Homo sapiens: one gene and its partners. The protein of the gene in region 4 interacts with the protein of the main gene of each other region in a biochemical or structural test. Each region holds a gene or a part of one and is shown on either strand. Other genes may lie near its edges.

Region 1 (7,386 bases), on a different chromosome or scaffold from region 4:
GAATATAACTTTACCCTTATCTGGCGTATGGAACAAAGCCTTTAAAAGGCCTTAGGATTCTAGAGAAGAGTAGTGTTTAAATGAGGCGGCTTCTGAGCCAGCCAGTCTGAGTTCAAATCCTGCCTTTGGCTTTCGTTGTGTTTTCTTGGGGAAGTTATTTAATCCCTCTAGAATTCTCTCATCTGCAAAATGAGGAGAATAATGGTGCCACTGTCATAGGATTGTGTGAGGATTCGGGAAATACTACATGGAAAGCTTCCCAGTATATGGAAAGCACTCAGAAAGCACTTGCTGTTATTACTGCTATGGGTACAGCCATGATTGTTACTATCATTATTCTACAACCTGGCCCCTGCCTGGTTCCCAGCGTTATTTCCTGTCACTTTCTCTCATTTTACGCAAGTGCCTGCCAAGCTAAGCTACTCATTGCCCCCTGCGTTAACTCGAAGATTCTCTGCTTCCGTATTGTTCCCTGGCTGTGTGGAGGCTGAGTAACCACTTGGAGGGGATGTTGTAGAGGAAAATTCAAGCCACAGAAGGGAAACTGGGTTGAATGAGATCCCCTTTTACATTTCTTTTGGCTCTAAAGTTTCCATCGGATCAATAAAGCAAACAGGACAATTAGCAGCACGGCACTCAGCACTGAGCACAGGCGAGGGTGTTCTTTCACTCCTCTTTGCTTTCCTGCCACCCCCTGCTCGCCTTCCTCTTTGCACCATGTGGGTCCGCTCTGGGTGGGAGTCCTGGAGAAAGATACTTCAACTAAAGATAAGGCAGAGATAGGCCTCGGTGGAAAGACTTGGTAGACAGACCTGGGCATTTGATTAAGAGCAAATTGCTTAAATTCTCGGAGCCTCAATTTCTTTAGTAGTAAAATGGGGATATTAGTACTCACTCCATAGGGTAAGAATGGAATCAGATATTGTTTAAAAGGGCTTATAGCTGAGGTTACAAGATATAGCTAGTCTACTAAATATCCTTTCTCTTTTCATTTTCCTGTTATTCACAGGGGGGACTTAGGCTGTGTCTTTAAGGGGTTTTAGATTCCAATCAGTGGAAGGAGGGCTCTGCTGTGAGGGAGACCAGATGGAGACTGCAGGGGCCACAGGGGAACGTGGGGTGCAGGCAGGTGGGGCAGATGGTAGGAGGCCCTGAAACTCAGACAAAGGGATCTGGGCTTGAGAAAGCAAGAGCTGGGAGCTCAGCTTTGTTCCTGTTCTTCCGTTCCTCCCTCCTCTTCCTTCTTCTCTTCTTCTGGTAAGTTTTTGGCACAAAATTAAATAGGTTCAAACTAATAGAACTCATTTTCATGAATTCAGACTTCTAGCCAACTTCTCCATGGTTAGAAATAGCCACGACTCTATCCCAGGCCCGCCCTGGAAAGCAAAATAAAACTGCGTCCCCTGCCACCTTTTCCGGGTTCCACCAGACACAGGGTTGGAGGGGAACCGCCCTTCAACGCAGGCAATGTTGGCACATTTTTCATTGGGCGCTGTGGCCCGTGAGATGAGGAAGGCAGGACAGGCGCAAAGTGGACTCTACTTATCTTTCACCAGAGAGCCCCAAGGCCAGAGTGCACCATACAACCCGGAGTCACCCAAGGCCTTTTTTTTTGGGGGGGGGTCTCACTGGGAACAATGTCTGCACCCATTGTAAGCAGTTCCTTTGCCCCTGTGTGCCTCTGTCTTTTTAATTGGGATCGAAAACTGCTACCTCAATGGTAGTTGTGCCCGGCACATACTAACAGACTTATAAATGTAGCTGCCTGGGGCAGGGATGATCCTGGAACATTCTGACATCTAGAACATTAAGACTAAATGGATTTAATTATCTGGGGAGAAGAAAGCAAGACAATTAGAGTCACAGGTTCAACACCTGAGTTCAAGTACCTCCCTCATTTAAGAAAATCAATTCATGGAAGGCTGAGGCAGAGAATGGCTTGAATCCGGGAGGTGGAGGTTGCAGTGAGCCGAGATCACATCACTGCACTCCAGCCTGGGTGACAGAGCGAGACTGTCTCAAAAAAAGAAAAGAAAAGAAAATCAATTCAATGCAGTGGGAGAACTGTTATTGAGCAATTACTATCCACCAGACGCTGTGGAAAGCACAACTGCCTAGCTCCTCACACTCTTCCTGGTGATTCTCGGGTACAGACTAAGAGGATGTGGGGAGGACTTTTACATGCTCTTGGCATATATAACAGAGTGGCTACCAGCTGAGGTAACCCAATGATGGCTCTCTAAGCCTCAGTTTCCCCATCTGGAAATTTCTTATGGAAAGGCGGTGGGAAAGAAAGGAAAAAACAAATGTAAAACTTACGTTACAATGCCTGACTCTTAGAAAATATCAACCGACAGGAGTTGTCATGTTTTATTTGCTGTAAAACTACCAAAAGATCTTCTATCAACATTTTGTAAGTGAAAATAATAATATATATTCATATGTATTAATTATATAGAAATAATATATAATAATATATAAATGTCTCTATAGGAGAAATAATATCAAGACACCTAAAATTTTTAATTAATTCTAAACACTAAGACAATTATTTTATTATTTTTCCTCAACCTTCCATCCTAAATCATACGAATAATAACAATAGAAAGAGCTTACTAATTGTCATGCACTGTCCGAAGCATTTACTCCTCCCAACAACCCTGTGAGGTCGGTGTTGCAATGAACCCATTTTACAGATGAGAAAACTCCAGCACAGAAAGATTCATTCACATGGCCAGAGTCATGCAACTTTTAAGAATATTCCTTTGGTTTGCATTTCCTTGTATCTGCACCACCCTTCCCTTTCCTGTCTCTCTAGGTCTCCTGACCGGTTGGCAGGTCAGTCCCAATCATGGGAACTCTTTTCCTTTAAGCAGTCGTCTCTCTTTCTCTTCCTCTCTGTTTCCACCTGCCCTCCATCAGTGTCTCAGCACAGTGGAAGGCTGCTTGCTACCGCACTGGAAAACTTCTCCAGACATTTCCAAGTTTGCATTCGTCCATCTCCTTTGGAGAATTGCTTCAGTGAGGCCTAACCCTTTCTGAGGAAAGGCCCTTGGGAGAAGAAGCCAGGAGAAGGTAGTGGCACTCCTTTGTCATCAGGAGACATTGGGAGGAAAGAAATGATTTTCGACAGCAGCTGGGTGAGGGGAAACAGAATCACAGAACCTGCGGAAACGGTGTCGGTACAACGGCAGCTGCCAGCTAAACGGGCGAAAAGGCACCCTGCAAGATCTTTTCTGTGTTTCAACGATGAAGTAGACTCCCAACATGGAACAGGGGCGGGGGGGCTGTTACCAGACAGGTGACATTTGGTGCATGCACGAACAGGTCCAGTGCCCCATTCGGAGGCCAGGAAGGCAGCCACCCAGCAGAGCATTAACTAGGGGACCAGACGGTCACCTGCCCCTGCTCACCCCCACCTCCTTCCTCCCCAGGAAAAAGGAAGTCAAGTAGATGGAGAAACGGGGAAGTCCAAGCTGCTGGCAGTGGCATTCAAGGGTCTATATATAAGGTTGACTCTAATCCCCAGCGAGACAAAAGCCTGTGCCATAAAAATGATTAGCAAGGGGTTTCTAAAAACATTTCCCCAGGCCACGGAAAAGGAGAAGGAATATTTTGCACACTGCCTTGTCTCTTAGAAATAATCACAGCTAGGCCTCTTTATAACCGGCGAGTCTTTTTCCTTTCACACGCCATTTGCAGGCGCGTGGCATGGTATTTGTAACTAATTTTCAGTAGCAAGTGGGTCACTGGTATTCACAGAGTCAGGTGCCATTTTGAAAACTGCTTCCCTCTACCCGAATCTCTTATATTTCCAGATGCAGATGCACTTCAGCGATGTCCTAGTGCTGGAAACGCTCCCTTGAAAATATAATTTGATTTTTGAATTTCATCTTAAGACATTAGAGATAATGTAACTGTAGTCTTTGGAATTCAACGCTGGCCTCCTTAGCCATCACTTTTAAAATTTATGAAAATAAGGAAGAGGAAGGTAAAGAACTTCCTCATTGTCCGGCAGTAAAGTCAATGGCAGAGCTTGAGCTTGACTTATTTTGCTAAGAGGGAGGTGTTTTACCCTATAAACTCCAAATTACCTTACACCCAGCAAATACTACTGTTGAGTGCTCACAAAAATTATGCTGATGAAACAATATGGATGTTTCAGTGATGAAACTTTCTCTTTTAAAATCACTTAAGGGTGCTTTACGTCCCACCCAAGGCAAGAGGAACGCCAGCGAGGAAGACAAAGAGGCCCGGGGTGGGGCGCATGCCCGCCACTGGACTGAAAGCTGAGTCACAGGAATCGTACCCCTGCAGCGGGCCAGGCCCTCCAGGGAGGGACACCGCGCCCTTGTGTGGAGATGTCCACAGTAGACAAAGGCAGTTTCGAAATAAAAGAATGCCTGTCACCCCAGGTGCCACCCCGACCCTTAGTTATTATGCACTGGTCCCCAAGAGCAATTTCTGCGCTGCTGTTGCAAAAATTCATCGTAATGAAATAAACGTAAAAGGGGAAAATGTGTTATGAAGTGTTGGAGGGTGCTTTGCTCATTTTTTTCGCCATCGTTGTGGTTAGGGTGCATGCACTAGTGGACCCCGGGTGGGGGTGGGGCTCCCCTCCCCAAAAGCCCGGCAGGCCTCCGGATGCCGTTCCGAGACGCGGCGCGAAGGAGTTAAGCGGGCCGGCGGGTGACATCACCTCATTTACATAGGAGCGCCCATAAAGCTGCGCCCGCCGCACCCCGCCCGACAACTCGGTGGTGGCCACTGCGCAGACCAGACTTCGCTCGTACTCGTGCGCCTCGCTTCGGTGAGCCCCAGGGCCCCTGCCTCCTTCCTCCTGCCGTCCTGCCTCCGTCCCCGCCCTTTCATCATCCGCGTCCCTGTGAAGGCATTCCCTAAATCCGAGCCCGAGTGGTTCTCCCCGGGAAGGCTACTTTGGGGAGCTGGGGGGATGCGAAACACCCTAGATACTGGATAATGGGGTGGGGAAATCGATGATTTAAGAACAAAACCGAAAAACTGGCGTTTTGCCGTGCCGCTCGGAGGGGACATTAAAAAATTTCTTAGTGTTTGCCCGCAAAGGTATTGTGCGTTGCCTTGGAGGCTGAGATATGGGGGAATAGACAAGTCCTTTGTTCTGAGGTTCATCTTCCGAGCCCCGAGCCTCCTCCCAGCCTCGGACGGCTGCGCGGGCTGCATCTGTGCAGCCTGGCGGCGGCGGGGCTGTGCTATGACATCTTTACAGTCCTTCTTGCAGAGACATGTGTGCCAGGGATGCCGAATTGCCGGGAGAGCAGGCAAGACCGGCTTCGGGGCGCGCGGCGGCCGCTTTGTGTGCGGGGCTGCATTGTGACGCGGGCGATGAAGCCGGTAGGGCGGTGGTCGGAAGCTCCAGCCGCGGCCGCCGCCTTTGTGAGAGGACTAGAAAGCCGGATCCGGCCCGCATCCTTGCGGAGAGGCCGCGGCTAGGAAATGGAAACGCTTTTCCTACCTGGGCTCCATTTTAGGAATTCTTGCCGATTTTTCCCACTTGAATTTGGAAGTGGCTTTCCTCTTCTTTCCTTGTCCTAGCCAGCCTTTAATTTTAAACGCTGTAATTAACAATTCGCAGTGGTCAATTTCCTTTATTCTGCAAGATTCGGCTTTGAGAGGCATCCGCCCTCTTTGGTCCACAGCGTTTTGAAATATGGGGAGGAGGGGCGCGGGGGGTGTCGCCTCTTTTTCTGTAGAAAGAGGAAGCTCGTGAGCGCGGAACGGCAGCAGTAGGAGAGCGAGAAGGGTTTTTTTCAGGCTGCGGGTCGGAGGGCAGAAGTGCAGTTCCCAGCCCAGAGACAGCGGGGCGGGTGGCTCTTCCTCACGCTCGCTCTTGGCTTGCTCCCTGCAGCTTTTCCTCCGCAACCATGTCTGACAAACCCGATATGGCTGAGATCGAGAAATTCGATAAGTCGAAACTGAAGAAGACAGAGACGCAAGAGAAAAATCCACTGCCTTCCAAAGAAAGTGAGCTCCGACCCACCCCCATCTTTAGAAAGGCTGGGTGGGAGCGGCCGGTGGGAGGGCGGGAGGCTGGGAGCGGCCGCGGGAAGAATTCGGGAGGGGGGAGTGCGGGGGAAGAGCCGACAGTTGATGAATGTGGCTTGCAAAGGTTAATTAAAAATGGTTTTGCAGCCAACAAACACGGGGCTTTAGTAATTTAGTAATGGAATATTTAATATGCCATATTAATATACAAACATTTATCCATTAAAATGTATTTCTATTTAGTATATTCAATATACATATTTTATTCCATTGTGGAATACCGTGTAGAATGTTTATGATTTGAAAAGATGCTTTAAATGAAAGCCCTTTAGTCTGTACTGAATCCTTTAATCATCTCCCTCCATCTTTTTTTTTTTTTTTTTTCTGGTCACAGCGATTGAACAGGAGAAGCAAGCAGGCGAATCGTAATGAGGCGTGCGCCGCCAATATGCACTGTACATTCCACAAGCATTGCCTTCTTATTTTACTTCTTTTAGCTGTTTAACTTTGTAAGATGCAAAGAGGTTGGATCAAGTTTAAATGACTGTGCTGCCCCTTTCACATCAAAGAACTACTGACAACGAAGGCCGCGCCTGCCTTTCCCATCTGTCTATCTATCTGGCTGGCAGGGAAGGAAAGAACTTGCATGTTGGTGAAGGAAGAAGTGGGGTGGAAGAAGTGGGGTGGGACGACAGTGAAATCTAGAGTAAAACCAAGCTGGCCCAAGGTGTCCTGCAGGCTGTAATGCAGTTTAATCAGAGTGCCATTTTTTTTTTTGTTCAAATGATTTTAATTATTGGAATGCACAATTTTTTTAATATGCAAATAAAAAGTTTAAAAACTTAGCTGGTGTGTCTGTTTGGTTTCTGGAAGGATCGCGGATGAAACCTTTGCAAAGAGGCCTACCTCTTGGTCCATTGGGGAGGGACAAGCATCTGGTGACTGGATAAATTCCCTTATGGCATAGAAATGGGTTTCACCCAGGTATGCAAAATACCTTGTCTATACTAGGAGATCATTTTCTCAGGCTGATTGAATTCCTAGTATGAATTGTGTGAGAGCTTTAATAAAAATATCTTTGCAGTTCTTACGGGTTTTGATAAGCTGACATTGCACGTGCTCAAGAAAATGAAGGTGATAATTTACAGCACAGTATCTTATTTCAGGGTATCAAATTGAACTTGGTTATTTAACCAAGTGCTAGCATTAACATAGATGAGTAAAAATTACATTTTTAGCAGCTGCGTTAAGAAGGAATTTAGGACTTGAGCTTACTCATTTTCTAATGGCCGGTTTCTAATCAGAGTTCAATATTTACAATTGCTTTAATGAATACAGTTAAGATTAGTGAACATGATTTTA
Region 2 (7,021 bases), on a different chromosome or scaffold from region 4:
ATCACTAGAGATTATGTAATAAATGGTTAAAATTCAAGCCACATCTTGCAGGTCCAGCCTGTCAAGATCTGCCAATACGAGATTTTGGTTGGTACAATTCTAGATAGCGTAATTTTTAGTTGGATATTGTGACTATAGTAATGAAATACATTTGGAACTACATTATGCATATTACTCAATGTGAGAAAAATATGTTTGTATTTAAATCAGATAATTTTCTACCTAAAATTTAAAGTAGGTAGGTATGATAATTAGCATTATAAATATGAAACAACCACCTTTAGGCAGATTAGTGTAGTGTAGAGAGGCAAAGAAACCCTAATTTTAACACACCATTTAGTATGCATAACAAATGTGCAGGTTGTAAAGTTTTATCTTTAAAAAAAAAAAATCTATCATTCAGTTATCTGTTCCAAGAACTCTGACATTGGGACCACCAATCTTTTAAGAAAAATGTAACTCTTCACATGCTATTTGACAAAAACCCTCAAAAGTTATCCAAATCAATGCATGTTCGGTTCCGTGTTTTAGCGCACACCTTTGCCAACTAGATTACATTTTTATGGTTGGTATTTCTGAACACCTCAATCCACACAAAGTGCAAAATAAAAATGCTAAAATTCTACAGTATTTTAGTACTATTCTGATTTGTATAGTTTTTTTAACCAAATATTGGAGTTACCATAATATTACCTCAGTTCATGTAGAATGAAAACTACTCCCTAAATCCCTGAAACTCCAACTTAAATTTTGTTTCAGAGTAATACCAAAAAAATTTTCAAAAATTTTGCTAAAAAGAGCCTGTCACATTTGCTACAGCATAAAAATAACCCCAGTCAATAACAAGTATTTAAGGGCTCCTTATGATCCCAGTCTGCAAATACCACTGCTATACCAATAACAGGCAGTATTACTGTAAGAGGTGTGTTAATCGTCTTCCCCACTAGTATCTCTGTAGTGATTTTATGTAGAGCATATTGCTAAAATTTGAGAAACTACATCGGTGTAGTGATGTCTACAGAACTGTGCAATGTATCAGCTTCAACATTCATATGTAGCATTGTATTCAAAATAAAGGGGCTAAAGAAACTAAGGTCTGCATCACTTAAAAAAGAATGTAGTGCTATACTAGATTTTTTTTTAAGAAAATTTAGGTACAGAAAAAGTAGGGTATGAAAATAGTGTTTTCCTTCTGGCATTATAAGTAAATTACATTAAGGTTTTTGTCAGTCTCACATATAGTATTTAAACTCCCTTGTTGATGGAATGAAAAATATTCACAAATCAAGTGAGCATCCTGGTGTAAACTTGCACACAATAACAGGGAGTAGCTTTGTAGAGGATTACGACAAACCTTTACAGATTAAATGAGGTATTGCACAGATTAAAAAAAAGCAAAAAAGGCAACAAAAATATACAGCAAATTGGTAGAACATTTACATGATAATTTTACAGAATCCACAGACAGAAAGTAGTGTTTAGTATTTCACCTTAAAAATATATATATATATATAATATATAGATCAGTCTTCCCACTCATCATCATCCTCAAAATCTTCTTCATCATCTTCATCTTCATCTTCATCTACAAGAAAATCAAGACAATTAAAACATATGCATAAATAAAATGACATTACATAATTCTTGGGTGGTTTCTCCAATTATTTAACTCCTGAAACACAGATAATGTGACTCCCAGAAGAATCTAGTTACTAAAACAGTTTAAAGTGAATCTAAAGAAATATATCTATAGAGTATGATAGTAAACTAAAGATTAAAACAGGGCTTAGAAGACAATGGTTCTAGTTCCTTAATATCTATGTGACAAATTTCAACCTGTTAATGTATAAAATCATCTGGGTTGACCTTTCTGTCACAAATCCAACTACCTTCTTGTACTCTTCATATGGATTCTCAAACTCAAAACTTCTAACTTTTATTTCCTTCCCCAATCTTCTTTTCCTGCTCCATCCTGGTCTGCTGCTCCATCTCAATAAATGGCATCACCATCCTGTCACATAATCAGGCCAAAAACCTAGAAATTATTATTACTTCCTCCTTTTTCACGATCCAATTATCAAGCCTGCTCTTTTTCACCTCTTTCACTGCTACTCTCCACACCACCATCACATCCTGCTTGGATTATTGCAACTCTAGAGTCTATTTGACTCAGAGCAAATGGAGTGATATTATTTAAATTTCAAGTTTAAAAAATATGTTGCTACCCTTCTTAAAGTCCTCCTGTGGCTACCACTGCTATTTGAATGAAATCTGATGCTACCTCCCTCCATAAGACCCTACATGATTTGTCCAGTTATTGTCTCTCTCTCTCCCCAAACTTCTCTCATATGTACTCTCCCTTCAAGTCACTCTCTCTAGTAAGATGGTCTCCTTTCTGTCCCTTAAACTCACCAATCTTATTCTGGCTTTAGAACTTCTGCAGTAGCTATTTCTTCGTTAAACTGAATCTTTTCATCATTTAGAAACCATTCATAAACTACTTCCTCAGAGAGGCCTTTCCTGACCATCATATGTAAAGTATAGCTCTTCCCCATAATCAGTAACGGCCTATCCCATTTTACTTTCCTCATATCACTTGCTAATATCTAAAATTATTGTACTTTATCTATTAAGCTCCATGACAGCACGGACCTTGCCTATCTTATTTCTCACTGTATCCTCAACACCAAAACAGCACTACACACCAGCCATTCAATAAATATTTGTTGAAGGAATATTTAGTTATCAGATTTTATAAGCATACTTCTATATTATACTGACTTTCCATATTTAACCTCTTCATATATCTATATATAAAATATGTATAAATATATACACCTATAAATATATAAATACATATACCTATATATAAATATATAAATATATATAAATATGTATATAAATATATATATAGGACCCATGAAGGCCAAGTATATAAAGTGGGACAGTGGCTGAGTAATTGTACTTGATAATGATAAAAAGCCAGTAAGACTAGGTGACATACGTGTGGGTTACATGTACAGAACACAGAACAATCTTTTTCTTCTATTTTTCTCATGTAAAATTGATTGTGTGAAGGTAGTATTTGAAGAAGTACTGGAGCTCTAGTATTAGAACTTGAAAATTAACAGAAGCCCAAGAGAAGCAACATTATCTTCTCTTAGCCCTAAACTAAGTTGTTACTTTTAAAACGATAATTATTTATTATTTATTTATTTATTTATTTAAGTCTCATGGTCAGCTCTAAATTGTTACAGAATTTATTTGGAAAGGAGTTCAATTGAGTCATGTTAATTTCTGTTTACTCTTCTAGCAAGGGAAATAATTTGCTACCAGATTTTGCTAGACATGCTTCACAAAATTTACCTGGATGAAAAGCATCAAAGACACCTGACTATGCTGGCATTACAGACTGACAAAAGACAGAAACTTATCAGTATCTATGGTGAAGAGGAAGAAGTAGCTAATAATTTCATCATCAGGTACTACCACAGAAATACTAACAGTTAAAATAAATGGGTCTGAAAATAAGTAAAAACCATCCTATATTTTCATTATATTAGCGTGACTATTACATACTATTAAAAAAAAACTTATTGTAGGGAAATATTTAGCAGAACTCACAGATACCAGCATAGAATAAATGCTTTTTCAGAATCATGTAGTTCACAGAAGCCTTACATTTCTTTATGAATGAATGAAGACCTTTCTTTATCTCTTCCTAGCAAACAACCTCTAAACAAAGCTTGAGATTTTTAGATCTCATTCCTATGACATTACTATGACATAAAAAATTCAGGCAGTTTACCTCATCTGTGAGGATTAGGGCTAAGAATTTAGGTAATTTTCACTGTTTTTATGCTAAAGAAGACTATACCATAAACATAACCATAACTTTAAATACCAGGTGTCTATGTATATCCTACTGACATGCAATTTAACAATTCAGACCTCTCCTGTGACTTCCAGACTCATAACGAAATGCCTACTCCACATCTATAGTTGAATTAATAGGTATCTCAAATTTAATATGTAAAATCAAACTCCTAATCTTCCCTCTCAAACTTTTTCTTCGTAAGTCTTTCCCCTTTCCAGTTGTTCAAGTCAAAAACCTTGGAGTCATTTTGCACTCTTCTTTTTCTTCAACCTTCACTTTCAAACCATCATCAAAACCAGTGATCTCCACATTCAAAATATAATTAATATTTAACCACTTCTCATTGGTGCTATAAACCTGGTTCAAGCCTCCATCACCTCTTGCTTGGATCATTACTACACCTCTGCTAAAAACCCTCCAATGGCTTCCCATCATATGCAGAATAAAAGCTAGTGCACTTTCAGGGGTCTCCAAAGCCTTACCACTGGCCTCCTACTACTTCTTGTATTTCATTCCTTACTATTCTTTCCCTCCCTCCCTTGCAAGCTCCGTGATCTCCTCATTGTTTCTCAACCTCACAGACTTTATATTTTCTGTTCTTTCCATCGGATACACTTTCCCTAGTTTTCTACATGGTTCACTTCCTGAACTGCTGGTCTTTTCTCAAATGTCACCTCAGTTAGGCTTTATTGTCCCTTATCATCCTTTATCATTTCAAAATGAACCTCTCTCTCAACAGTCTGCCCCCTATTTCCCTTTTCTGTTAGACTTTTGTCCTTACTTCATGTCACCATTTAACATACTGTATGTTTTTCTAGTTTTCTTTGTTTATTGCTTGTCTCTCTCTCTCATTAGACCTAATGCATGTCGATGAAGGCAGGGACTTTTTTTTTGTTAAAATTTTATTATTATTCCACAATAAATATTTATCTCTATCTCTGTAATGGAGGGTAGGTACAAATATGCCTATTTAAGGAAAACAAACATTGCTCAAGGATCTTAAGACATGGACATCCTTACAGAGAAACAAAAGGAAGGTAACATTTATTAAGCACCTACTATGTGCTAGGCAATCTGCAGGTTAGTGACATACTATTTAATTCTCACATCTATATGTTTTGTGAGTTCTCTGAATGTAACAAACAAGAAACTGAGGCTCACAGAGATTAAATAAATCTAAGAAGAAAGATCTGATTCTAGCACATCATGTTGGAGAAGCTATTTAGCAAACCTCAACTACTCCAATCAGCAAAACTCATATTCTTGTTCTTTCTTTAAAGGAATATTTATATGGTGGTATGTATATGTTTAATAATAACCTCAGAATAGGTACTGGTTTCTTCAAATCAACCTTTTAGAAAATGAAAAAGAAAGGTTTAAAAAAAGTTAGTATTCTTTAGCAAACTCTAGAAACAGTAAAAATTACTGAAATTCTTATCCCTAATCCTTACAGATGAGGTAAATGGCCCGATTTATTATTATTATTATTTATTCATTTTATTTTTGAGACGAAGTTTTGCTCTTGTTGCCCATGTCGGAGTGCAATGGTGCGATCTTGGCTCACCACAACCTCTGCCTCCTGGGTTCAAGCAATTCTCCTGCCTCAGCCTCCCGAGTAGCTGGAATTACAGGCATGCGCCACCACGCCGGCTAACTTTTTTGTATTTTTAGTAGAGATGGAGTTTCTCCATGTAGGCCAGGCTGGTCTCGAACTCCCGACCTCAGGTGATCCACCCGCCTCGGCCTCCCAAAGTGCTGGGATTACAGGTGTGAGTCACCGCACCCAGCCCTGAATTTTTCATGTCACAGTAATGTCACAGGAATGAGATCTAAAAATCTCAAGCTTTGTTTAGAGGTTGTTTGCTAGGAAGTCTATTAGCATTTCCTGATATAGGAAACAAAACTGTCAATATTCCCAAAGCTGTTCTTTCAATTTATGGCTATGGCTGTGGTGGTGTTGCATTTGTTAAGTCTCAGAGAGACTAGTCACACAGGCAACAACTTTTTAAAATACATCCTAGAGCCCACATCAGTAGTTACTCAATTAGCAGAGAGAAAGCTAGCAAAGACAGTCATAAAAATAACAGAACGTCAAACATTCAAATTTATTAAACACACACGCACACTCTCTCTGTCTCTCTCTCTCTCTCTCTCTCTCTCTCTCTCTACCTGAAGAATGAATGGCTTTGCTCCTTTTCTGCATCACTTCCATTAATGCACCCACAATTCCTGAAGTGGGTGCAGGTGTTGGTGGTGTAGACTCTTGGCCATCAGCCACCTTGGAAAAGAAAGTTAGCAAAACTCAGTAATAAATCTTTAGCCAAGAATCTTTGTCTCCAGAAAGTCCTACTTTCTTAGAATCACTTCTTATTGTAAAAGACAAAAAAGATATCAAACTGGCAAGCGCAGGACAAGATTAATCAAATTAACAAGAAATAAACTGCTGCCTTAAAGATATTATTCAAAAATATTTCCTTTCCATCTTAATGTATAAGCCAAAAATACATTTCCAAATCTATGTTTACATTCAGATAACAAACCCTCTCCTGAATAATACTTGCTGGGTTACTTCTGTTTATTCCAGCACACACAGACTTAGATGATCAACTTTAAAGCTTTTATCAAGGGATTTCATGTTATAAACAGAGGTTAATACTTAGACTCCAGAGTTGTTACGTGGGACGCACACTGAAGATATTGAAAAACAACTGTAGAAACTTATATTTGCCTACAAAAATTCAGCTTTACACCTTTATGTTACATTTATACCTTCAAAATGAACCTCTTTTCTCATAGTATATAATTTCTTTTTAAGGAGATGAGTTGATCAACTTTCAAAATGTACCTGCCTCACTAGGCAAGTAACAATCCCTAACTGAAGTACTTCCAGCTGTGCCAAAGTGCATTCATGAAAAAAAAAATTATAATTAAAGATGAAACAGCATAGCTGTATTAAATAATTACCTATGTTTTAATACATACATATATAATATATATTTTTGAAATTCTTAATCATTTCCCAAAGACAATTTTATTTAGACAAACTTTCCATTTTGATCTGTACAATTCTTCCTCTAATACTCCTTGTTCTTTCTGGAGTAAACACCTTTTTTAAAAAAATTCAAAGTGGTTCCCCCTAAGATA
Region 3 (7,875 bases), on a different chromosome or scaffold from region 4:
TTACAAACTTTTTTTTAAAAACCCAGGCACTTACAAGTTACAGTGAGCTGCAGTCAACACCCAGTCTTTTGCAATCAAAGCCCCAGCACAGATGGTTTTTCTGTCAAGACTAAGTAGGACCATGTAGGGTCTTGAATGAGGAGTTACTTCATTTCCTCCAATAATTTTTTCACAGACATCTGTTCAATGGAAAAAGACAAATCAGATTGGTGCTCACCCCCAAAGAGCTCTACACAAAGTCATGTTTCTAAGACCAGCCATGCTTTTTGCACTCAGAGAGGAAGTCTGGATGAGAGCATTTCCCCTGCTTTTACTCTATGTAGACCCGCAGACATCTGATGCAAATCCTATTCCTGTTGGACTCTAGGGTCCTGTTTTTCCACCCACAGAAGCGAGGCCATTGACTGTTCCAGGATCATTAGGCTGGATGTCACAAACCAGCAACCTCAGGCCCCAGGGCAGAAAGCTCTGCCTTGGTCTTTACCATCAACAGTTGCTGCAGGAAATGCCAGTGGTAGTGACAACCTCAAGTGCTCCCACCCTTTTTGGCTAACTATTAATTTGGGGGAAATAGATAAGACTTTTAGAAGCCTCATAACTTCCCTTTTAACCCCAAGCCATTGCAAAAATATAGCTTATGAACCGATATTAGCATCGTTTAGCTGTGACCCTACCCCTCAGTCCTTTGGTCATTATGAGACTTTTGGTTATTAAACTGCACTGTTCTCACTCATAAGTTAAGAAAATAACATCGATTGCACCTCCCCTTCAATCTCTAGACCAAACCATGGGGTTTAATCTAAGGTCTTTTCCAATGAGATAGGGAAGAGAAGAGAGAAGATACCATATGCCAAGAATTCTGCCTAAGTGACATTTCCTTGATGATAGTCTTGAAGTAGAGACCCATTGTTAAGGAACAGTGAGAACTAAACACAAGGCAAACCATACATGCAGATAGAGAGAACCTTATGTCTTAGTGATACACTCCGAGTGCTCCACCTCCTGCACCAGATGTTCTTGGATTCTCCCAAAATAGTTTTGCTGAGACTCATGGTTTCTTGAATAGGGCACAGTGCCTCTTGTTCCATAATTAGGACTAAGTCATTGCCAAATTCACAGGCAAGTATTAATGACAGCTATAGAAGCCTTTCGTAAGATTTGATGAGGGTAAGAGCAAGGAGGAGAGTGACCACATGAAATGTGGCTAGTGTGATTTGAAAAAGCAGAGGTCTCTGCTTTTAAAAAGGAAACTGGGAGGAAGAAATTCTAGGCTCTAGAAACAAAAGGGTAAAGAGCTTATAGAAACAAAAGACCTTCACCCAATCCCAATTTTCCTAGGGTGATTCATGTACAGATAGATTTCAACTGTGCCTTGCTTTGCTGTCTGTTCCTTATATGGGCCCACACTGCCCTCTCTGAACACAGGAAACAAAGAGGAGCACAGCAGGTTGCTTTTGTTGTTTTCCTTTGAAGAAAAGATATGGCTGGATTTATCTGCCCTGTGTTTTTCTGTTATGGAGGATTTAACATGCCTGAATATAGTCATACTATGCCCTGCTTATAACATAGCCAACCTTTGTCCCAAATGTCCTGCAGCCTTGTTATTTTTATATTTCTTCTCTCTCTCTCTCTTTTTTGTTTTTTTTTTGAGACAGAGTCTCGCTCTGTCACCAGGCTGGAGTGCAGTGGCACGATCTTAGCTCACTGCAGCCTCCAACTCTCTGGTTCAAGCGATTCTCCTGCCTCAGCCTCCTGCGTAGCTGGGATTACAGGCACGTGCCACCATACCCAGCTAATTTTTGTTTTTTTAGTGGAGACAAGGTTTCACCATGTTGGCCAAGATGGTCTCCATCTCTTGACCTTGTGAAACACCCACCTCAGCCTCCCAAAGTCTTCTCATATTTAGGTGCATAAACCAGATATGCACCTAAATATGATAAACCAGAGTTCTTTGGGAATTCCTGGCAAGGCAGGTTATTACATAAGTCCCTGCCTCCAAAAGCTGATGAATCCTGGGAAAAACCGTGGCTGGCTCCATATTGCCACAGCTTGAGAGTAGTCCTCACTTCCTAGCAGGTTCTTCAAGGGAAATCTAGAGCTCCCCAAGAGCTGTCACCCTTTCAGTGGTAATACCATGAATTATACAGCATTTTAACCCATGCATGCTCAACTCACACAAAAGCAGAAATATTGGTTACCATTTGGTAGACAAAAAATTAGCTTAATAAAAAATACTATAGCACACCCAAAGGGTTAATGAGGGAACTGGCCTCACGCCTTAATTTATTGCCAAAGAGTCTCTAGACCAGAGAAATAAGTATAAAAATTCTAATAATTCCTGATTCACTTTTGGTGTCTAGGTCAGATTTGTCTTAATTGTCTTTATCTATGCATTTTCTGCAGCAGGAAAGGCTGAGCTGACTAAGTTGCCACTATTCCTTTCCTGGAAGGTACTATTTGTTTTACGAACAAGAGAGTTTTGTTAACTCATTTTTACATTGTCCTTTTTGGCAATTTTCAAGTTACAAATTGGCAGCAATAAGCATTGGTGGTTCTGCTATCTTTTGCAAAATAATTATGAGAAGAAAAGATTTTTTTTTCTAAAATACAGACATATTTAAAATCCAAGAAAGAATGCTATTTAAAAAAAAAAAATAGAGACAGGGTCTCACTATGTCGCCCAGCCTGGACTCAAACTCCTGCGCTCAAGTGATCCTTCCACCTCAGCGTTCCTAGTAGCTGGGACTACAGGCATGTGCCATTGTGCCTGGCTAAACATTATAAGGCTTGGGGGAAAACATCTTCTTTCAGTATAGGAAGGTAATATTGCCAAAAGTTCATTGAAAGTCTGCTCCATTTTGCTTCATGGTCATAATGGAAATGAGAAGAATCAGTCTTACCTTCAGGAATTAGCAGGAGAGAAACGACAACTGAGAGAGAGGATGCCAGAAATCTATAGGAGTTCCTCATTGTGGCTGCTGTCCCACATCAATCAACCTGAAAATCTGTTTTCAGTTCTTAACTGCCTCTATCTATATACTGAGAGTAAAAAGGATGTGGTTTCCTTTCATTTTTTTTTTCAAGTTTCAAAGTTTAGCATTAGGAAACCAAATCCAAATAAGTGAGAATGGTGGATGATGGCTCACTGCCAGCAGGCAGGCTTTCCTTTGCTAGGACTGCTGAGGGGGGCGCTGGAATTCTACAGGGTAGGAGAGGGGCAAGGGACCTTGTTGCCATCAGAGTACACCAGGGAAGACTGTAAAGTGTCTCAGCTATGATTTTGAAGACGCTTTCATCATCTGCAATATTATCTGTAGTATCCATGACTGGAAACTCTCGAAGACTTAAATTAGAATTTTAATAAAAGTCCTCAAAATTGGTCACCAATCAAAATTCTTTCTAGCTGTCTCCTTGGGTTATATAAGAATTAGCAGGCCAAGTGCAAGCTGAGGACAGGAGGGAGATTTATTTACATAGAGGCTCCTGCCTGGATTTTCCTTCCCCACTTTGTGGTGAGTGTTTATTGTGCTCCTGCCTGGTCTGTGGCAGGTGTGGGAACATGGGCTGGAGGAGGGTAGGGGCTCTTGGCCCTTTTCAGCCCTCTGATTGTGCGTTCCTGATTGTCTAGTTTCACAACTTTAGATACTGAAAGTATCTCCGAGTTTCCCTCCCTCCCCGCCCCCCCCCGACCCCTGCTTCCTGCCTTTCTTCCTTACTTTCTTCTGAACAGGTTTAGGTGAGAAAAGAAGTGGGAGTCATTTTTGTTCCAATGTTGGGGAATGTCTCACTCTAAGAAGAGTCAACCTCAGTCCCTGGAGGAACAGTATGCAGTGTGCTTTCTATTTGAAATGAGTTCAGCTCTTTTTCTGAGCTGAGGATGTGGTCTCCGATACAATATACATGGTCAGATGTGCTGTCAGGATGTTGGGTACTGAACCAACCATCCCCATAGTTAACATCCTGATGACTTCAAACCTAGTGGTTACTTCTTTAGAAATCAAGTGACCTTAGAAGGGAGCCCTGCTGAGACCCCTGCATTTCTTTTTCTCAGATATTACAAGTGTATCAAAGGTTAATCATTTTCAGTAACAGCAGTGAGGACCCTGCTATTGGTTTTGGTGAGTAATTTTAGTGCAGACTTAAAAAAGTCAAATTGTAATTAACTACACCTACTGAAAAATTCTTAAAACATTGACAATTTTGTTTATTTTTATGTGAATGGTTGCTCTTCCATTTATGTTGACTTCTAACAACTTTATGAGACATAATTCACACACCATAAAGGTCACCCATTTAGAGTGTATGAGTCAATGGATTTTAGTATATTTGCATAGTTGTGCAGCCATTACCAGTACCATGCTGTTTTGGTTACTGTAGCCTTGTAGTATAGTTTGAAGTCAGGTAGCATGATGCTTCCAGCTTTGTTCTTTTGGCTTAGGATTGTCTTGGCAATGTGGGCTCTTGTTTGGTTCCATATGAACTTTAAAGTAGTTTTTTCCAATTCTGTGAAGAAAGTCATTGGAAGCTTGATGGGGATGGCATTGAATCCATAAATAACTTTGGGCAGTATGGCCATTGTCATGATATTGATTCTTCCTATCCATGAGCATGGAATGTTTTTCCATTTGTTTGTGTCTTCTTTTATTTCGTTGAGCAGTGGTTTGTAGCTCTCATTGAAGAGGTCCTTCACATCCCTTGTAAGTTGGATTCCTAGGTATTTTATTCTCTTTGAAGCAATTGTGAATGGGAGTTCACTCATGATTTGGCTCTCTGTTTGTCTGTTATTGGTGTATAGGAATGCTTGTGATTTTTGCACATTGATTTTGTATCCTGAGACTTTGCTGAAGTTGCTCATCAGCTTAAGGAGATTTTGGGCTGAGATGATGGGGTTTTCTAGATATACAATCATGTCATCTGCAAACAGAGACAATTTGACTCCCTGTTTTCCTAGTTGAATACACTTTATTTCTGTTTCTTGCCTGATTGCTGTAGCCAGAACTTCCAACACTATGTTGAATAAGAGTGGTGAAAGAGGGCATCCTTGTCTTGTGCCAGTTTTCAAAGGGAATGCTTCCAGTTTCTGTCCATTCAGTATGATATTGGCTGTGGGTTTGTCATAAATAGCTCTTATTATTTTGAGATACGTCCCATCAATACCTAGTTTATTGAGAGTTTTTGGCATGAAGGTTGTTGAATTTTGTTGAAGGCCCTTTCTGCATGTATTGAGATAATCATGTGGTTTTTGTTGTTGGTTCTGTTTATGTGATGGATTATGTTTATTGATTTGCATATGTTGAACCAGCCTTGCATCCCAGGGATGAAGCCAACTTGATCATGGCGAATAAGCTTTTTGATGTACTGCTCGATTTGGTTTGCCAGTATTGTATTGAGGATTTTCGCATCGATGTTCATCAGGGATATTGGTCTAAAATTCTCTTTTTTTGTTGTGTCTCTGCCAGGCTTTGGTATCAGGATGATGCTGGCCTCATAAAATGAGCTAGGGAGGATTCCCTCTTTTTCTAGTGATTGGAATAGTTTCAGAGGGAATGATACCAGCTCCTCTTTATACATATGGTAGAATTTGGCTGTGAATCCATCTGGTTCTGGACTTTTTTTGGTCGGTAGGCTATTAATTATTACCTCAATTTCAGAACCTGTTATTGATCTATTCAGAGATTCAACTTCTTCCTGGTTTAGTCTTGGGAGGGTGGATGTGTCCAGGAGTTTATCCATTTCTTCTAGATTTTCTAGTTTATTTGCATAGAGGTGTTTATAGTATTCTCTGATGGTAGTTTGTATTTCTGTGGGATCGGTGGTGATATCCCCTTTTTCATTTTTTATTGCATTTATTTGATTCTTCTCTTTTTTTCTTTATTAGTCTTGCTAGTAGTCTGTCATTTTTGTTGATCTTTTCAAAAAACCACCTCCTGGATTCATTGATGTTTTGAAGGGTTTTTTGTGTCTCTAGCTCCTTCAGTTCTGCTCTGATCTTAATTATTTCTTGCCTTCTGCTAGCTTTTGAATTTGTTTGCTCTTGCTTCTCTAGTTTTTAGCATTGTGATGTTAGGGTGTTGATTTTAGATCTTTTCTGCTTTCTCTTGTGGGCATTTAGTGCTATACATTTCTCTCTACACACTCCTTTAAATGTGTCCCAGAGATTCTGGTATGTTGTGTCTTTGTTCTCATTGGTTTCAGAGAACATCTTTATTTCTGACTTCATTTTGTTATTTACCCAGTAGTCATTCAGGAGCAGGTTGTTCAGTTTCCATGTAGTTGTGTGGTTTTCAGTGAGTTTCTTAATCCTGAGTTCTAATTTGGTTGCACTGTGGTCTGAGAGACAGTTTGTTGTGATTTCTGTTCTTTTATATTTGCTGAGGAGTGCTTTACTTCAAATTATGTGGTCAATTTTAGATTAAGTGCGATGTGTTGCTGAGAAGAATGTATATTCTATTGATTTGTGATGGAGAGTTTTGTAGATGTCTATTAGATCTGCTTGGTGCAGAACTGAGTTCAAGTCCTGGATATCCTTGTTAACCTTCTGTCTCGTTGATCTGTCTAATATTGATAGTGGGGTGTTAAAGTCTTCCATTATTATTGTGTGGGAGTCTAAATCTCTTTGTAGGTCTTCAAGGACTTGCTTTATGAATCTGGGTCCTCCTGAATTGTGTGCATATATATTTAGGATTGTTAGCTCTCCTTGTTGCATTGATCCCTTTACCATTATGTAATGGCCTTGTCTTTTTTGGTCTTTGTTGGTTTAAAGTCTGTTTTATCAGAGACTAGGATTGCAACCCTTGCTTTTTTTGCTTTCCATTTGCTTGGTAGATCTTCCTCCATCCCTTTATTTTGAGCCTATGTGTGTCTTTGCATGGAGATTGGTCTCCTGAATACAGCACACTGATTGGTCTTGACTCTTTATCCCATTTGCCAGTCTGTGTCTTTTAATTGGGGCATTTAGCCCATTTACACTTAAGATTAATATTGTTATGTGTGAATTTGGTCCTGTCATTATGATGCTAGCTGGTTATTTTGCTCGTTAGTTGATGCAGTTTCTTCCTAGCATTGATGGTCTTTACAATTTGGCATGGTTTTGCAGTGGCTGGTACCAGTTGTTCCTTTCCATGTTTAGTACTTCCTTCAGGAGCTCTTGTAAGACAGGCCTGGTGATGATGAAATTTCTCAGTATTTGCTTTTCTGTAAAGGATTTTATTTCTCCTTCACTTGTGAAGCTTAGTTTGGCTGGATATGAAATTCTGGGTTGAAAATTCTTTTCTTTAAGAATGTTGAATATTGGCCCCCACTCTCTTCTGGCTTGTAGACTTTCTGCTGAGAGATCTGCTGTTAGTCTGATGGGCTTCCCTTTGTGGGTAACCTGACCTTTCTATCTGGCTGCCCTTAACATTTTTCCCTTCATTTCAACCTTGGTGAATCTGACAATTATGTATCTTGGGTTTGCTCTTCTCAAGGAGTATCTTTGTGGTGTTTTCTGTATTTCCTGAATTTGAATGTTGGCCTACCTTGCTAGGTTGGAGAAATTCTCCTGGATAATATCCTGAAGGTTTCCTAACTTGGATCCATTCTCCCCATCACTTTCAGGAACACAAATCAAAATGGTCTTTTCACATAGTCCCATATTTCTTGGAGGCTTTATTCATTTCTTTTCACTCTTTTTTCTCTAATCTTGTCTTCTTGCTTGATTTCATTAATTTGATCTTCAATCACTGACATCCTTTCTTCCACTTGATGGAATTGGCTATTGAAGCTTGTGCACGTGTCACGAAGTTCTCGTGGTATGGTTTTCAGCTCCTTCAGGTCATTTAAGATCTTCTCTACACTATTTATTCTAGTTAGCCATTCGTCTAATCTTTTTTCAAG
Region 4 (7,647 bases):
ACTTTCGATTTGGAAGAAATCGAACTGCTCAGTTTATTGTTAAGCCGTTTTCTCACCAGCCCACGAAGCCAAGCTGAGCAGCACCCACCGCCCCCACCCCCAAGACTACCCAATACTTCCAGGTTGGTCTGTCTTTCCCAGCCCACTTGCTACTTCCCCAAACAGGAGCCATTCATTGGTTACGGCAGCACTTTTATTTTTCCTTACACAATGACGTGTTGCTGGGGCCTAATGTTCTCACATAACAGTAGAAAACCAAAATTTGTTGTCATCTCTTCAAAGAATCGAGAATTGCGTACAAAAAAAACCTTACATAAATTAAGAATGAATACATTTACAGGCGTAAATGCAAACCGCTTCCAACTCAAAGCAAGTAACAGCCCACGGTGTTCTGGCCAAAGACATCAGCTAAGAAAGGAAACTGGGTCCTACGGCTTGGACTTTCCAACCCTGACAGACCCGCAAGACAAAACAACTGGTTCTTGCCAGCCTCTAGAGAAATCCCAGAACACTCAGCCCTGACACGTTAATACCCTGCACAGATCAGAGGCTGCTGGCCACACAGACTCACCAAGCCACAGACTTGTCTTCCACAAGCACGTTCTTACCTTAGCCACGAAGTGACCAAGCCACACGTACTAAAGGTTGAACTCAAAGATATGTACAGGGTATTAAACAAATACCAAGGGGAACAGTTAACTTCAATACAAGGTCAAAATCAGCAACAAGTTCTACAATCCAGTGCTGATATCAGATACAAGCTTCAAGGACAATTTCTTTTCGAAGGCTTATTCCAGTTTCGTGAGGCTAGCATGAGGTGTGTGCATTTGCCAGGGGCAAATTTCTATTCTCAATTAACCCATGCAGCAAATGCTACGCATCTGCTGAGTCCGTTTAGAAGCATTTGCGGTGGACGATGGAGGGGCCCGACTCGTCGTACTCCTGCTTGCTAATCCACATCTGCTGGAAGGTGGACAGTGAGGCCAGGATGGAGCCACCGATCCACACCGAGTACTTGCGCTCTGGGGGTGCGATGATCTGCAAAGACAGCCAGGCACGGCTTCAGCTCACAGAGCGCCCCCCAGTCAGCTCTCCCGAGCCAGGCAGAGGGCCACCAACCCCTCGACTCACCTTGATCTTCATGGTGCTGGGCGCCAGGGCGGTGATCTCCTTCTGCATCCTGTCGGCAATGCCCGGGTACATGGTGGTGCCGCCCGACAGCACCGTGTTGGCGTACAGGTCTTTGCGGATGTCCACGTCACACTTCATGATGGAGTTGAAGGTGGTCTCGTGGATGCCGCAAGATTCCATACCTAGGGGACAGAGCCCTCCCTTAGTGATGCTGTGTCACCGAGGATGTAAGAGTAGAAACCTTTAGCTCACAACACCTACCCAGGAAGGAAGGCTGGAACAGCGCCTCCGGACACCGGAACCGCTCATTGCCAATGGTGATGACCTGGCCATCGGGCAGCTCGTAGCTCTTCTCCAGAGAAGAGGAGGATGCGGCGGTGGCCATCTCCTGCTCGAAGTCCAGGGCGACGTAGCACAGCTTCTCCTTGATGTCGCGCACGATTTCCCGCTCGGCCGTGGTGGTGAAGCTGTAGCCTCGCTCAGTGAGGATCTTCATGAGGTAGTCGGTCAGGTCCCGGCCAGCCAGGTCCAGACGCAGGATGGCGTGGGGGAGGGCGTAGCCCTCGTAGATGGGCACCGTGTGGGTGACCCCGTCTCCAGAGTCCATGACAATGCCAGTGGTGCGCCCAGAGGCGTAGAGGGACAGCACGGCCTGGATGGCCACGTACATGGCCGGGGTGTTGAAGGTCTCAAACATAATCTGAGAAGGGACAAGGGGCGGCTTAGTCAGGGACAGAGACCCACGGCCACCCCATGCTCACACGCCACAACATGCTGCATGCCAGTGTGATGTGTGGAGAAAAGAAAAGAACGCAGGCAGAAACCAAATGAGAAACCTGGAGGCTTCAGGGAGGAAATGCCGGGAGAGGAACAGAGCCTGGAACAGCGAAAGAAACACTTAAATGTCAGAAATCAAGCCGGGCAGAAAATGACTGGGGAAAGGACGGGAGGAGCACGGGCGTCGGCCGAGCCTCACCTGAGTCATCTTCTCTCTGTTGGCCTTGGGGTTCAGGGGGGCCTCGGTCAGCAGCACTGGGTGCTCCTCCGGGGCCACGCGCAGCTCGTTGTAGAAGGTGTGGTGCCAGATCTTCTCCATGTCGTCCCAGTTGGTGACGATGCCATGCTCAATGGGGTACTTCAGGGTCAGGATGCCACGCTTGCTCTGGGCCTCGTCGCCCACGTAGGAGTCCTTCTGGCCCATGCCCACCATGACGCCCTGCAGGGGACGACCCGTCAGCCTCGCCGGCGACACCGAACCCACCCCGCAACGCAGAACCCAGGAGCCCCGCGGCGCCATCCACTCACCTGGTGTCTGGGGCGCCCGACGATGGAAGGAAACACGGCTCGGGGAGCGTCGTCCCCAGCAAAACCAGCTTTGCACATGCCGGAGCCATTGTCAATGACCAGCGCGGCGATCTCTTCTTCCATTGCGACCTGCCCGGAAAAGGATGGACTCAGGCGGGCGCGTCTGTAACACGGTCCCCTCCCCACAGCCACCTAATGCCCTCCCGCGGGGAAGCCTCGGCCCTGCCCCAACCCCAGCGGCCGTGGCCTCCAAGATCGCAACCGCCTGGAACCGAAGGCCGGGCCTTTTACGTAACGTCCACGGCTCGGAAGTCTGCACTGCGGCCGGGCCCCGCCCTGGACCCCCGGCGCCCCCCCAGCCCCGTCCGCCTGACCCGGCCCACCCCGCCTTTTGTTCCCGGGGAAGGCGCGACGAGGCCTCGGCAGCTGGAAGCGGGGCCAGCCGGGGTCGGGGGGCGCAGGCCTGCGACGTCCAGCTCAGGCCCCGGGGCGGGGCGCTCACCGGCAGAGAAACGCGACGGCGGAGCGGCGGAAGAACAGAGTGCGAGAGCTGGCAGCGGCGACTGAGACCGACCGCGGCCTCCCCCGCCGTTATTTAAGCGGAAGCGGCGCGCCCGCGCGGCCCGGCGGCGCGCGCGGCCCCAGAACATGTCCATATATGGCGATCTTTCCGAAAGCCGGGCACCCATTGGCCCGCCGGGCAGGGACACGTGGGGCCCCGGCCCGCCCCGCCCCCAGCCCGCACCGCCTCCCAACGGCCCCGCCCGCGCCACCCCCGCGCGCTCGCGACCCTGCGCGGGCCGGCGGGCGGGTCTGAGTTGGGGCGCCCTCCGAGGGTCGCCGGGAGGGCCGAAGGGCTGACGGGCCTGGCCCCTCCCCGGGACTGCCGCGCCGTGGGGAGGGCCCTGCTGCGCCCCGAAACTGCCTGACCCGGGGCGGGGCCGCGCCGGAGCTGGGGTGGGTCCCCGAGTCCCCGGCCACGCTGCGGGGCTTTGCTCCCTGGGACGTCCCTTGCAATCTTTCCCCTCGGGCTCCACGAGGATCTCGGGCGCCAGTGCCGGGCTGAGGAAGGGGCGCGGCGGGGGTCCGCGACGCTCTGCGTCCCTGGGCGCGGGGGAGCTCTCAGGAGCCCTCACCTCGCCCCGGTCACCATAGGAAACAGCCCGCCCGTCCCCAAGCGCAGCCACCACCATGCAGGTCCCTCCACGGGGCGCCCTGCCCCGGATCTCCGTTCGTTTGAAGACCGAGGCCCCTTTCTACCCGACCCGACACATCCCTGCCCCTCAAATCACAGGCCTGATTGTCCCCAGGCGCGCGCTCCGGGTTGGGGCTACCCCGCCCCCTTATGTGCTGAGAAGGTGGTGTGGAGTGAGGCCTTTGTTTCATTCTGGTCACCTGTAGACATTATAGGGAAACTGAGGTAGACAATGGGAGCCCTGACTTTTTTGAAGGTCGGCTCCCCAGCTTCGGGCGGTCGGGGGGATACCCTCTTCTGTTTACGATGCTAGTTAAGAGCAGCGATCAGGGCTGGCGTGGGTTTAGCCACAGGCTTGTCCAGGGCGCTCACTCCTCGCCAGGAGCGGCGCCGGTGCTTTGGTTACACCCCGAGAGGCGCCCGGCACTACGGTTTCCTTGTGCGCTGCTGGAATTTTCAGGGTTGGAGCGCCGGCCGCGTAGGGGTGGCAGTGAGGCCGCGCAGTGAGGGGACGGACTCGCCCGAGGTCGCAGAGCGTTCAGATTGACTCGACAGGCTGGGGGGCGGGGCCGGGGTCCCCACGCGGAGTCCGGGGCCCTGCAACGTTAGCTCGCGACCCCGTGTTTGGGAGTGACAACAGCGAGTCAGGGCAAGGCGGCCGGCCCAGCTCACCTGCGGGCTGCAGTCAGCCCGGACGCCGAGACCCGTGCCTAAGGCCCCCGTGCCCCAGGCCTCCCAGGGGTGCTGAGCGCCCCCAGGCCCAGAATCTCCGGGGGCCCGGGCAAGGCTGTCAGGTATGTTCCCTCCCGTGGCGAAGCCGGGGCTGGGCCTCCAACAGACCCACCCGGACTCGCGTCCCTGGGCAGAACCACACAGCCTGCTCGACCCCCGGGTGAGGACTTCCACTTGGGGGGTCCCAAGATGCGACGTCACACACCGAGGGACACGAGGCGGGTGGGGAATAGCCACAAGCCCCTCCATCCTGCGTTCACCCCACACTACGTTCTGCTCCGGGCCGGCCGGGGACCCTGCCCCTCCGGGTCTCTGGTCTCCTCCGAAGCTTCTTTGTCTAGGAAGTGCGGGGAGGTGCCGGCCCCGGGCGCGCGTCCCCGTCCCCCACCTTTCTTCCCCACGTTGCGGACCCGAGGCCGCCAGGGTCGTGGGGGCGGGGGCGAGGCTGGCGCCTCGAGACCCCCGGGTTCCCCGCCACCCGCAGGGCCTGAGCCGCGGGGAGGGGCGGGGAGGGGACGCCGCCGCGGGCCGGGGGTGGAGAGCGACTTCCTCCTCCGCGGCCGCGTCACGCGGCAGGGGTCAAGGTGTGGCCCAGGTACGCGGCGGGGGGCGGTGGCGCGGCCATATTTGGCGACTTCGGCGCCGCCGGAGCCCCGCCCGCCTCCGCCGGGAAGCCCGGCCCGGGGCAGCGCCATCCCCGCCCGCCGCCGGGCCTGAGTCACGGCGGGCGGGGGGCGGAAGTAACGGACGGGGGGCGCCCGCCCGGCGCTCCTGGCCTTATTTAGTCAAGGAGGCCGCCGATTGGCGCGCGGGACAGAGGGGCGGCGGCCGGGCAGCCTCGGGGCGTAGGAGTGGCCCGGCGCCTCCGAGGGGTCGGGGCGGGAGCCGGGCGTGGGGGGCCTCGGAGCCTGGGGAGTCCCGGGACCGACGGCGGCGGGGATGCGGGTCTGCCTGTCCCTGGGATGCGGGCGGGCGGGCAGGGCGAGGCCTGGAGCCCGCGGGGCGCAGGGGGCTGGACCGCGCGCTGTGATTTTTCTGTTTAGCAGCGGGGCCTCGCCCAAGGTCGCGCGGGGCCTGTCCTGGATATGCTCTGGGAAGCCAGTGGCGCAGGGCAGCCGCCACCCTTCTGGAACCAGTGCCGGAGAGGGCCGGGCAGCTGGGCCTGGGGAGGGGACCGCATGGATGGAGCTGGGGGTAGCTGGGCGGCCTCCGGAGCCGGGAGAGTCGGCAGCTGCACTTCCGCCAGAGGTGGGTGTGTCCTTCACATTTCAGGAAGGGAGACTTGGGGCCTGGAGAAGCGATGTGATTTTTCTTTTCTAGTTCAGTGCTGGTTTTGATGGCTTTTTATCATGACCTTGTTATGTCTTATTTTAGTTTCGGCCCATTTAGTGGATACGACAACAGTGGCCCAGGGAGGTATGGCAGAGCTGAGGCTTAACCCAGGGCCTGCGCCCTCCACGGCCTGCACTGCCCCACCTCCAGCTCCTTGCCCTGTTCCTCCCTCTGCACCGGATCAGCCCCCGGACTCTGGGTCACCTCCACACCAGTTGACAGGGCCCCCCAGTCCCCACCGCCAACCACCTGGCCGGCTACTTGTCAGACAGACATGGGGGCGTGGGCATGGGTCCCCACCCCTAGCCTTTGCCTCTGTCACTCTACCTGCCTGGAATGTCTACTTTTTCTTTATATTTTATTTTATTGTATTTTTGAGACAGTCTCATTGTCGCCCAGGCTGGAGCGCAGTGGCGCGATCTTGGCTCGCTGCAACCTCTGTCTCCGGGGTTCAAGCGATTCTCGGGCCTTAGCCTCCCGAGTAGCTGAGACTACAGGCGTGCACCACCATGCCTGGCTAATTTTTGCATTTTTGGTGGAGACAGGGTTTCACCATGTTGGCCAGGCTGGCCTGAACTCCTGACCTTAAGTGATCCACTCGCCTAGGCCTTCCAAAGTGCTGGGATTACAGGCGTGAGCCACCTCACCCAGCCTGGAGTGTCTCATCTTCCACCACTAAATGAAACGATGGACCCTGAACAGAAAAAGGAACAGTGGTGGAAGAACTAGCAAAGCCCACAGCCTTGAGTTTGGCCGTAAGTATCAAGGTTAATCTCTCAGTTATGGCAGTTGTCCCATGACCGTGTAAGATGCCAGGTTAGGGGACACTGGGAATAGAGCATTGGGAAACCTTCCCACTGTCTTTGCAACTTTTCTGTAAGTTTAAAGTTCTCCCATAATAAAAAGCTAACTTGAATCCAAGGCAAGCAAAGCTTCCCTACTCTCAGCCCACCTCCCTCTTCTCCCACACCCTTTTGGACAGATGAAATGCAAGGTGATGGCCCTGTTTCCTGAAGCTCTTTCCAGGGCCTGGCTGGCTCCCTTGGGCAGGTCTGGAGTGGGCTCTGCCTCTTCAGGAACAGTGGTCCCAAGGCTGGTCCCGGTGGGCAAGGCTGGTTTCCTGCAACTCGGCCTGGCTGCCTCTGAGTTTTGGCTCAAGGGACAAGGCCAGGGTCCCACACTTCTGTCTCCTGGCTGGTGCCCAGCTTGGGGCTTGGTTCTCCTGCCCCACTGCGCAGACTGAAGCTCAGAAGGCTCAGCTGGCTGCCCCCCACCCCACCCCTGCGGAGTCACTGGGCAGCTGGCTGTGAGTGGCCAGGTGCTGCTTGTTTGGTCCCAGGACCAGGTCTCTGCATGTGTTGTCCAATTCTCACCTGGTCCCCAGACCAGGTCTCTGCATGTTTTGTCCAATTCTCACCTGGTCCCCAGACCAGGTCTCTGCATGTTTTGTCCAATTCTCACCACTGGAGGAGAGTCCCAGACTGTGGAGTTTTCACAGGGAGGGAAACTGAGGCAGTCTCCTGGGTCAGGGTAATTAGCCAGAAACAAGGTCACATTCTGGGAGGTCAGAAGGTTCTGGAGGGCGGTGTGGGCACTCTACACGAGGGTTAGGGGCTTGAATGCACACAGACACTCAGGCCGAGAGTCCCTCAACCCCACTCCCCTGCCCCGCCCCACCCCCGCTGCTCCAGGCCTTCTGGAGACAGGATCCCTGTTGCAGTTTACCTGAGGCTCCCCATCCCCGCTGTGAGCAGGAACCAAGGAGGCCCCTGGAAGAGCCCTGAGCTGGGAGTCGGACACCTGGGTTCTGGGCCCGGCTCAGCCCTGTGCCTGCCACGTGACCTCTCTGTACCCCAGTTCCTGTCAAAAAAGAGGAGAGGGCTCTGCGATGTGAGATGTGTGGCCCATCAGGGGCTCTGAGGCTGCTTGCCCTCCCGTGTGGACAGGAAGTC

The links.
Region 1: the proteins of ACTG1 (region 4) and TMSB4X are reported together in a solved structure, tested with the Homo sapiens proteins (2 studies listed by BioGRID, with this or other methods).
Region 2: the proteins of ACTG1 (region 4) and WASL are reported together in a solved structure, tested with the Homo sapiens proteins (one study listed by BioGRID).
Region 3: of the proteins of ACTG1 (region 4) and GZMA, one has a biochemical effect on the other in vitro, tested with the Homo sapiens proteins (one study listed by BioGRID).

The regions. Positions count from the first base shown.
Region 1 is NC_000023.11:12,970,359-12,977,744, forward strand, and holds TMSB4X (thymosin beta-4), read left to right. Parts: upstream 1-4,751; 5' UTR 4,752-4,810; intron 4,811-5,887; 5' UTR 5,888-5,903; coding exon 5,904-6,003; intron 6,004-6,418; coding exon 6,419-6,453; 3' UTR 6,454-6,865; downstream 6,866-7,386.
Region 2 is NC_000007.14:123,682,996-123,690,016, forward strand, and holds part of WASL (actin nucleation-promoting factor WASL), read right to left. Parts: intron 6,156-7,021; coding exon 6,047-6,155; intron 1,586-6,046; coding exon 1,524-1,585; 3' UTR 1-1,523. UniProt on the Homo sapiens protein: Regulates actin polymerization by stimulating the actin-nucleating activity of the Arp2/3 complex. Involved in various processes, such as mitosis and cytokinesis, via its role in the regulation of actin polymerization.
Region 3 is NC_000005.10:55,097,778-55,105,652, reverse strand, and holds the start of GZMA (granzyme A precursor), read right to left. Parts: upstream 3,008-7,875; 5' UTR 2,971-3,007; coding exon 2,901-2,970; intron 180-2,900; coding exon 35-179; intron 1-34. UniProt on the Homo sapiens protein: Abundant protease in the cytosolic granules of cytotoxic T-cells and NK-cells which activates caspase-independent pyroptosis when delivered into the target cell through the immunological synapse. It cleaves after Lys or Arg.
Region 4 is NC_000017.11:81,509,796-81,517,442, forward strand, and holds ACTG1 (actin, cytoplasmic 2), read right to left. Parts: upstream 3,005-7,647; 5' UTR 2,939-3,004; exon of another isoform or gene 2,820-2,938; intron 2,566-2,819; 5' UTR 2,560-2,565; coding exon 2,437-2,559; intron 2,348-2,436; coding exon 2,108-2,347; intron 1,832-2,107; coding exon 1,393-1,831; intron 1,314-1,392; coding exon 1,132-1,313; intron 1,039-1,131; coding exon 895-1,038; 3' UTR 176-894; downstream 1-175. UniProt on the Homo sapiens protein: Actins are highly conserved proteins that are involved in various types of cell motility and are ubiquitously expressed in all eukaryotic cells.